2 separate regions of the Homo sapiens genome follow, and region 2 is linked to region 1. The links come from fine-mapping of genetic effects on gene expression. A gene starts in region 1. The other region holds a variant in brackets. All regions are shown on one strand. Distances are from middle to middle.

Evidence for each region. PIP is the estimated chance that this variant, and not a neighbour inherited with it, causes the effect.
Region 2: its variant is the best candidate, but not a certain one, in a credible set for the expression of EXOSC9 in tibial nerve (GTEx, PIP 0.51).

Annotation. Positions count from the first base shown.
Region 1 is chr4:121,798,690-121,804,074 of GRCh38, reverse strand. EXOSC9 (exosome component 9) reads right to left here and starts at 2,752. Exons shown (of 12, transcript NM_005033.3): 1 at 2,585-2,752; 2 at 2,154-2,248; 3 at 1,282-1,401; 4 at 1,058-1,160. The coding sequence starts at 2,650. RefSeq lists enhancers at 2,682-2,951, 2,760-3,563.
Region 2 is chr4:121,911,240-121,916,624 of GRCh38, reverse strand. It overlaps TRPC3 (transient receptor potential cation channel subfamily C member 3), which reads left to right. Exons shown (of 12, transcript NM_001130698.2): 4 at 1,681-1,845; 5 at 4,532-4,748. Among named protein-coding and RNA genes, the nearest start is that of TRPC3, 38 kb to the left of the region's middle. The variant T/C (reference allele first, on the strand shown) is at 2,884.

The DNA.
Region 1 (5,385 bases):
GAGCTATAATGACACCACTGTACTCCGGCCTGGACGAGAGTGTCACCCTGTCCCTCAGAGAAAATAATGAAAGTTTTCAAAAATTAAAAAAAATTAAACTTTTAGGTTTTGTGATATTTTTAATAACCTTACAAGTAATGCAAATAGGAAGTATTATGCTTAGGTATGGAATATGGGAAGCTAAATGACTTCTCTGGGATGAAAATGCTTGTCAAAATACCCTAATCAAGAATCAAATTCTGGCCAGGCACAGTAGCTCACGCCTGTAATCCCAGCACTTTGGGAGGCCAAGGCAGGTGAATCACTTGAGGTCTGGAGTTCAAGACTAGCCTGCTGGTGAAACCCCATCTCTACTAAAAATACAAAAATTAGCCGGGCGTGGTGGCAGGCGCCGGTAGTTCCAGCTGCTCGGAAAGCTGAGTGGGAGAATCGCTTGAACAGGGGAGGCAGAGGTTGCAGTGAGCTGAGATTGCACCACTGCACTCCAGCCTGGGCAACAGAGTGAGACTCTATCTCAAAAAAATAAAACAAAATAAAATAAAATAAAATTCTAATATCCTAATGCAGCACAATTTATTGGGACTAAGATTTTCAAAGTTATCCCTGCCACTGACATGGTGTGGCCCTGTGTAAATCGATAAACCTATCCAAATGAAGGATTTCATCTGTTCTTGAGTTCTGCATGAAAAAGGAAAACTACCTGCTTCTATGAACTCATGTAGAAAATGAGAGATTATATGAAAAAGCCACAAGTTCTTTGAATAAAATATTTTTACACAAAAATCTAAGTTGCTATTTTCACCCTTTTAAGATAAAGGGTGAAAACCTTTTAGAAACCTTTAAGAAAAAGGGTGTCCTCTGAAGGGACACCCTTTTTGTCCCTTCAGAGAGAGAGAGGTAGCACAAAGTTCTAAGGGTATCACTCAAGAACATCTGAAGTGAAGCAAACCAGTACAATACTGAGTTAACTAAAGTTCTGAGAATAAAAGGATAGATACCGGGATCCATGATCAACAGTATTCATCCTAAGATTAAGAATTATGGGCATATTCCCCACCTTTTCACCAGCAACAACACAGAGAGACTCAGTGTCTATACACTTCGAATTTCTTAGACATCTTTCCATGAGTCGATTCAACTTCACCAAGAGATCTGACTGCCTATAAGGAGAAAATAGGAATGGGCTAATGTCATGAAATATAACACCAGGTATTAAAACAAAAGCTCACTGCTGTTAGGTTCTCCTATGACTAAAGCAACTTAAGAAAAAGATTTAAATACCTGCCAGGTTCGAAAGCTGGAGCGGCCATCTGAGAGAGTTCAAGGTTAAAAAAAAGAATACCTTCTGTTGCCCGATTGAGTTTTGGAGACACAAGTTCACAGGAAACCTGTCCAAGAACTCTGCAAAGATAAAGTTACAAAGTATTAACCAAATAGACTCTCCTTCCAAAACAAAAAACTGAAACAGATAACAAGTTTCAATCTTAATGTGAGTAATATCATACTCAGCCAAATAAATCATAGGAGATAAAAATTATATGTAAAGTATAATATACACAGAAATAAAACATAAATTGGTACAACTAAAAACACGACAGAAAAAACACCTCTCTTCTTATTACAATGTTTACTATTCCACAGATTGTTTTAAAAATCAGTGACCTTTACCTCTAAAGCAAGTATTTATTGATACAAGATGGCATGAAAACCTGAGATTTCTTAAAGGTTTTCACATGGCATAGTTCACCACCATTATGTGACCAAATAGCCTCACAACTTTCAAATGAATATCTGAAAACCTAATTTTCATGTCACTCAGGAAAAAGAAAGCAGGATGTACACTTAATGACAAGATGCTCAAGATCTCTATATTAGTGTGAGAAACAAATTCCATATGATCACTACTAGTTGTCTATACGATTTATAGAAGTCAGAAAAGAACTATGTGATACGTGACAGAAAATACGTTTATGATTAAAAAGTTCAAGTGTGACCACAAAAGCAAAAAATCTCGCATAAAAAAATACTTATTTTTGTCAGCTAAACAAAGAATACTGTCCAGACTTCTTAGCTGCTTTATAAACAACCAAGTCAATAAGGTCTTTTTTCAAACTTCTCCCTTCCGAATGTGTATCTCATTTAAATCCTGTTACCTTGTTTTTCCAAGTTCCACAATGCAGCATCCGTAATCTGTTCCAAATGAGATCCTGATGTTCCTATAATCATAGGTTTGTCTGCCATCCAGCCGCTGTAAGCACAAATTCATTCATTAATTTATTCCTTCAACAAGTATTTCTTAAGCAACTACTTTTTGTCTGGCCCTGGGCTAAGCACTTGGGGGAAAGTGGAATCCTAACCAGCCCGCCCATACAGGAAAGTGGAAACTACAGCATGGACAACTGCTGCGGTGACTGGAGCCTTGAAAAGAACCTGTCGAAAAAAAATAAATAAAGCCTGAGGGATGGGGTGAACGTGCCGGTCGTTCCCCTAGTAGCTCCCCGGGCCCAGGCGGGCCAGGTATCAGTCCACACCTTGAGACCCGAGCGCCCACGCAGCGCGCAATTCTGCGGGCACCAAACCATACCTTCTTCTCTTCGATGGCACGGAGTAGGAAGCGGCGTTCGCAGTTTGAGAGTGGCGTTTCCTTCATGGTGTTGGGTCACCGGCCCCACAGGCACCAGAATCCGCGGGAAAAACGGAACCCGATCTTTCCTTGCGCGCCGCTGCTCGCCCCGAGGCGCAGGAAAATTACGTCATCAAGGCGCGGCGGCGGAAAAATGGGAAATGGCTTGGGCTGCAGCTACTGCGCAGACTCAAAGCGTGATTGGGGAAGGCCAGCGAGCTGCGAGAAGCCATTGCGGCTTTGGGAGGCCGTTTCTGAACGTGAAGTTCCGTTTCTTTTCTCATAAAGTGCAGAGGAGAAAAGGATACTTAAAATAACCATGAGAGTGATAGAAATTATTATCAGTAGACCGCTCGCACACTTCACCCTTTGCTCAGTCCTCTCACGGGGTGGAGACTAGACATGTACTTCTGCAATTTCACAGATGAGTTGACATTGGTCCCTGGAAAGCCGCAGATGCAGGATTTGGAGCAGATTAAATGAACAAACACTGGAATGAGGCGGCATAAGGGTTGGGGGAGAAAGATAAATTGGTGAAATGGGATGTTTTTGTGGCCAAAGGTGAAATCTTGTGGGATCTGAGAAGTTGATGAGAATGGAGAATGTTCGCACGTAGTAACTAACGATGTTACTACTACTGTGGACTGAAAGTAAATGCACCGTTTATTTCTTATCCCCTCTCCAGTTATTTTAAGTCGATAGACTTTTTTTTACGGTCACAGAGAAGCCTTAGCGGGGCCATGCTGCCAACCACTCAGCTTTTTTGGAGAGGCAGTATCAAATAGTAGTTTTAAAAAGTGTTCACTGCCAGGGTTCAAATTTTAAGGCTATCATTAACTACTATAACCCTGGGCAAGTTAACCTGTGTGCTTCACATTACTCACCGGCAAAAAAAAAACAAAAACAAAAACAAAGCAGGGGAAGTGAGAAACCTATTTATTCTGAGGAATAAAAATGAGTTAATATATACATAAAATGTTTAGAACAGTGCCTGGCATGGAATAAGCACTATTTAAGTGTTTGCATATTATTATTTTGTTTCCTTTTGCTTTAGAGGTGGTAGGCACTGTAACTCCTACGCAGTCTTTCTCTGGCTTCTTTGGTAGCTTCTCACAAGTTTTTTCTACCAGTGATACATTTTAGTCTCACTTTGTACCACTTGCAATCCATGTACTCAATAAATACTTGAAGAGGGCCTACTCTGTCCAAGAATAATTTAAGTGCTGGAGAAACAGGGTAGACAAGATCCTTTCAAGGAATTTATATTCTTTTTGGAAAAGGCAAAAAACCCTAAACAAATAGAACAATTTCATACAGTGTTAAGTGCTCTCTGAGAATAGGAATGCTATCTTAATAGGGGTAGTTGCAGGAACAGGTGACTTTGTAGCGGTGACATTAAAGTAAAGTAAATCTTTGGTGTTGAGCAGGAGCACCCTTGATGCCATCTGGAGAGGAAAAGTGTTTCAAGCAGAAAGAGTAACATATGCAAAAACTGAGATGAGATGAGCTCCACATGGTCTGGAGAGAGAAATTGTGAAGAAGGAGGAAAGTGGACAGAAATGATTAATTTTCAAAATCGGCAAGGGGATTACAGGGTACTAACCACTTAAGTTCTTTAGCAACATGAATTCATTTTTATAGTACAGTTTCATACCAGAACTCCTGGTTGATAAGTTCTTCATTTAAATCCTTGAGTTCTTTCAGTGGCCATTTGGTAATTTTTCCCTTCAGCGATGAAATAGACCTTTGTTGAAATAGCCTGTTATTTACTGCAAGGCAGCTTGGTAATGGAAAGAGAATGGACTTTGGCTTCAGATAAAGTTCAGCTCAAATGAACTTGGAGTGAGCTAAATATTCTTTCTGATTTGGGGGTTCTGTATCTTCAGATTGGAAATAACAATTATTCTGTGTTAAGTGGTCTGAATGAAAGCATCTGATGAAACATTTTGGACATGATAGCTATTCAAATGTTAGTTTCCTCCTTTCTTGTTGGGTTGGCAAAGGCTTCCCATGAAACTGCCCAAACTCAGCATGACAGATTGCTTTTCTGAAACTGCTGCTTGATTACTTTGCTTTCCTTCCACTTTTGTTGAATTTCCACTGTTCTTTTCTACTTTCACTTTTATATTCTAATTTAAACACTCTTGCTTTTGTCTTTTTATTTTCGAGTTAATCCAAAGGTGTATGACCCATCTCCACTTACATCTACATACCATCCTAAAATATATGTACTTTACAACCTTGTGTTTATAAGAAATTTTTGAATGCCAAAGGAAAATTTGTTTCATGATTTCAGGGAAAAATAAGTTTGGAAGGTTAAGAAGAGGTTCAGATAATGTGTCAGGTAATGTGATACATTCTATTATTTTTTTTTTCTTTTTTGAGAGAGTCTCACTCTGTCACCCAGGCTGGAGTGCAGTGGCATGATCTTGGCTCACTGCAACCTCCACCTCCCAGGTTAAAGTAATTCTCCTGCCTCAGCCTCCCAAGTAGCTGGGACTACAGGCATGCACCACAACGCCTGGCTAATTTTTGTATTTTTAGTAGAGATGGGGTTTCACCATGTTGGTCCGGCTGGTTTCAAACTCCTGATTTCAGGTGATTCGCCCACCTTGGCCTCCCAAAGTGCTGGGATTACAGGAGTGAGCCACCGCACCTGGCCTCACCTTCTGTTCTTAAAAGAAGAATCAGTTGGAATCAGCATATTAATCTGGATGATCTGTCTAAAAATAACCTAGTTCTCAACAAACTATTTGAGTGTG
Region 2 (5,385 bases), 110 kb before region 1:
GACTTCTCATTGTATCCTCACATGGTGGAAAGAGCGAGCTCTCCTGCCTCTTCCTATCAGGGCTCCAGTCTCATTCATGAAGGCTCCTCCCTCATGATCTAATTACCTCCCAAAAGCCTAGCTTTCTAATACCCATCACATTGAGGCTTAGAATCTCAACATAATAACTCAGTTAATTATTTCAAATCTAATATTCATAAATTTATTCTCACCACCTCTGTCTGTGGGTCGTTAAGTACGCATGTATGGTGATGCGGAGGCAGCTGCCAGTGCAGCCATCAGTGGACTTTACACTGGGTGCACTCTGGGGGCAAAGGCAGGGATTTGGGGGAAATTGAACCTACATCGCCTGTCCTGGGAGATGAGACTTTCTTTTTTAATTAAAATTGTTGATGGGAAACTATGCACCAGTCAGTGGAAACCTGTGCATTTCCTTGTAGGTGGGCTTTGATAAAGAGCCAAATATTAATAACTCTAGGAATTGCCTGGAGTTACTAAGAATCATCAGGATTATTAACTAGAACTTGATCAAAGAGGAACCTTTTGACAAGTAGGAACTGCAGCTACTCTGTTTCTCAGTTCCCAAAAACATTTCATGGGTGTTTCTTAACAGGTTCATTGTTATTGCTTATTCTGTTTTTTAGAAGACAGTGACACCTTGATTTTTGTGTTGCTAAGAACTCCTTTAAAAAATATGTTGTCACTCATAGTTGATTTTTGAATTCCTGAGCTTGGACAAAGAGCATATGACCATTCAAAAAAAGGTGTGTCTAGCTACAAATGGGCAGATTTTGGCATAGGGACCTTTACAAGGGCCTGAGTACAAATGCATTCTGCTTCTTGAATAAGAACAGGGCTTTAAAGAAATCCCAGTCCTTCTAAATGATGCAGGCAGATAACTTAACAAAATCAAACGGGAAAAAAAAAATCAAATGGCTGGGCTGAAATAAGTATAATTTGCTCATTTTTCCTGATTAGAATTGTATTTATTAAAGAACTGCTGAAGATAAATAGTCATGTTCTTTTGACCTTTTGATACAGGAAGCAATAAAAAAGAGGACGGGAGGGAAGTGGCATTTGGTGCCAGTTCCTGGAAGAAGTGCATGTGTAGACCCAGCATAATACTTGCAAGTTCAATTGATTATTTTTCAGGCCTTTTACAGATTTGCAGTAATAGTACATAATTACACAAAGGGTGCATTATGCATTTTTTTGTATGTAGCATTTTAGGGGTTGCTCGCGAAACTTCACACATTTCTCTTTTAGCTATAGCCTACAATAAACCAAGTAACTTTTCTTCTTTTCCATTTTGAACTGAATGCAAGTAAGCTGGCCAACAGCAAGATGGGACACATTTTTACAAAAGAAGCCAGATGTCACCCAGATTCCACAGAGAAATCTGTGAATCATGGAGGGTTTCTATCAAAAAGAACTGTGATTAAGGACACCACCAATTTTACCTTCTCATTTCCATTCTAATTCTTCTATTAGTTCTGAAACAATTTTGAAAAATGGAGGGAAAGCTAAGAAGAATATTACCAGAACCTTCCAGTACCAATATGCTAGAAAAAATATGCTTTAATATCTTTAGGATGCATGTGTATTTAATAGTTGAGCTATTGACAATGGTATGGTAACTTACCTTTCTCTCCCCTTCTCAAACTCTCTCTCTCCCAATAGTTTGTGGCTCATCCCAACTGCCAGCAGCAGCTCTTGACGATCTGGTATGAGAACCTCTCAGGCCTAAGGGAGCAGACCATAGCTATCAAGTGTCTCGTTGTGCTGGTCGTGGCCCTGGGCCTTCCATTCCTGGCCATTGGCTACTGGATCGCACCTTGCAGCAGGGTACTTGCTTTCTACATCTATTTCCTCTGTGGTGGTGTACTGTGTCTCTTTGGGATAAAAAAATAAAAAGCTTCATGCTTAAGAATCTTATCAGTTTTACCCTGAATGTTAATTGATTCAAGAACACAGATTCTCCTTTTTAATTACTGGATCAATTCAAATAAGGGATGAAAAAGGATTTGGTACCAGTGGGATATACCACATTTGCAGGCATAAAGTACTTAGGCTTTTAAGATAAAATCCTCATGGTAGACAGAGAAGGAAAAGCTGCTTGAGTGAAGTAGCCCTTGTACTGATTTTATTGACGGCTTAATAAGTAGAGTGTCGACTGGGCTGGCCTGTGAACAGACCGGGGAATGGAGAGCACTGCTGCAGTAGTACCAAGAAACAGTTACGCTGGGAACTAGAAGGGCAACCCATTTGGACCTGTCAGAAGAAATCCAAGGTTAAGTGTGCGAAGCACAGTTGAGAACAGCAGTGGTATCCAAAGTCTTCAAGAAAATGCATGTCAGGTTCCCCTAGCCCTTTGTTAATTCAGACAGTTCTTAAAAATGTAGGATTTAGGTTCAGGGGTTTTAGATTTTTTTAGATTGTTTATTTGGTTTTGCTTGGATCATTTTGGTTAGTACCTTTATTCTCCTCTCAACTTTCCAATGTAAAATCAATTTAGTTGTGCCCAAGAGATCCCCTAGCAAGATGTGGAAAGGAATACTATTCATGCCAGTTATTACAGGCACTGCCAGAGAGAAGGAGCTGTGCTGAGATCCTTTAATCCTGTTTTTATATTCTGAAATTTGGTTTTGTTTAAGTCAGAGGTAGTTTCAAGGCAAAATGAGTCAAGGGCACTTACAAGTGATCCTGGAAATCTATCATCTCTCTGGCTCAGCAGTCTCCACCGGCAGAGTTCTGCTCTGCAAACACCATATATGTGTGAGAATATTCATCCATCTCATTTCATCATTGAGTTGCCCATGCAAATTAAGGCAGAAAGTTTGTCATTTTGATCATGTTTGATGACTCAGCCAAGTTCTTTTGTTA[T/C]GTATCATGGAAAATTACTTTAAGATTCTTCAAATACGTAAACACTAAAGATGAAAAACTATAAATAATATGAGAGAGCATGCAATAAAAAAAATCATATCCTACCCAAATAATTTTCTTTTCTGAAGGAAATGAGTTGGAAAGTTCAGGTTTAGAAATGTTTGTCTCTTAGGGGAACTTAATCAGTTAAAACATTCCATCAGGTTTGAAGTAGCCATCTTGGAGTCCACTTCTTTTTTCCCTGCACTTTTACAAGTACAACTAACAGTGTGGCATGCTCTGCAGAGAAGGGAAACATGGAAGTTGAGCCATTCCCAGAGCCCATGTTTAGAGCTGCCGTATACCACCTATCTTATGGAAAAAGGCAACATAGCAAGAATTTTCCATGTATGTCCCATTTTTGAGATTGGCATTCTGCTTTCTTTTCATGTTATTTAAAGTTTTAAAAGATTGACCTTTAGGAGAAACAGACTTGGTAATTCCCAAGAAATTTCTATGTGCTACGGATAAGCTACCCCCAAACGTGCCCTTTTTGCAGCTGTGTAACAACAAGGTGATGTGTAAATGTGTTGTTTATTCTTCTGTGTCTAACATGGAAAATGTGACATTCGTCTGTGTGCATTCATGTTCAATCCCAAAAATCCCTGACATCTCTTTCATCATTTATTGACATCCCATTAAGGTTCTAGACCTACAAAAACATTTGTTTGGAGTTAACAGTCCCTTAAATGTGAACCTCAGTACTTTATAAGGTCACAGACAGAGTTAAAAAGCAGGGTCTGAGAGTGTAGAAAAGAGAACATACTTGATAAATCTACCAAATGTACCTAATTCTTGGACTGTGGGGGCCCTTGGGACAGGAGGAATGGTTTTTCATTTTCACGGGAACGTGGGACTTTTAAGGACATTATATCATAGGGGATTTTAAAGGAGTCACCTTAAAATAATTATATACTGAACTTTGGAAGTCCCTTTGTACCATTTACATGATTATCCAACTGGGAGATCACTTTCAAATAAGTTAACCTACTTAGAGGTTTTAATTATTGTGTATCTCCTTATTAGGGGCAGTAACAGATACAATATTCATCTTGGTTCTAATATTTTCTGCCTTTTTTATAGCATACCAGGTATAACTTGATTTTGGAATATTTAGAAATGAGAACTAAAATTTACTTCTGTAGTAGTAATTTTTTTAATCTTCAAAGGGTTTTTAAGGTCTTATATGAGTCTATAAGATCCTCATAACATCTCAATTACAATTACAAAGCAATGAAGAATTACACAATACAAAGTTGAAATTTCTTTTTCCAGACCCTAAAATCCAGACTTTGCATATTCTTTTGTGTAAAAATAAGAGCAAGAACCAGTATAGGCCCTGTGATTTCCAGAAGTGCATCTGTGAATGCAGTCTACCCTAAGACAAATTGGACATTTAGAAACAATGAATTTTGAATACTTATTAAATTATTTTTGGAGGAAGCATTCCCCTAAAAAAGAATATTTTTCATAATATAAAGCTTTTTGGAAACAGAAGCAGAATTTTGAGTGTTCTCCTTTCATCTATTTTTTTTAATCCTATGTTGTAATCTCCACAAGTGAAAGCCAGATTTTCTGAAGCAAACTTTTCCTCTTTGGTTTGTTACAGCTGGGGAAAATTCTGCGAAGCCCTTTTATGAAGTTTGTAGCACATGCAGCTTCTTTCATCATCTTCCTGGGTCTGCTTGTGTTCAATGCCTCAGACAGGTTCGAAGGCATCACCACGCTGCCCAATATCACAGTTACTGACTATCCCAAACAGATCTTCAGGGTGAAAACCACCCAGTTTACATGGACTGAAATGCTAATTATGGTCTGGGTTCTTGGTAAGTCTTTTATTTTAAATATCCTAATTTCTACCAAAAGGTAATTATAGAAATAATTGTCATTTTCTATTGAAAAAAAATGTTATTATATCTTATATGGTGACAACATCACTGTTGCAAGATAAGCTAAATAGCAAAATAACCAAATAATTTTCTAGCTAGATAATGCCAAAAGGTGTCCCTTAACACTACATAAAATTTTTTATGAGTAACGTGACCCTAATTACAAATATACTATGTTTCAGAAATCTAACTTCAATTATTGAACAAGATGTAAGTTTTAAAATGTAACTCACTGTGATTATTTAATTGAAATACTTATGAAATAACCCAATGGCTATCAACTGATGACAAATACTTTCTTTGTTGTTTTAGTTCCAGAGATTTTAGGAGAGTTTTCATTTTCAGAATGTTTGTTATTAGGTTGGGTACAAAAATAACTGTGGTTTTTACTATTTTTAAAATGGCAAAAACTGCAATTACTTTTGCACCAACCTATTTCGTCTTACAATAACCCATTTTGAATAGCTGTGTTAAAATAAGAATTTGAAGTAATGTGAGGAAAAGAATTTATTGTGTTCTCTGCTAAGAAATGGAGATTGGAACCAGGTTGTTTATTTCTGATTAATCCGAAGTC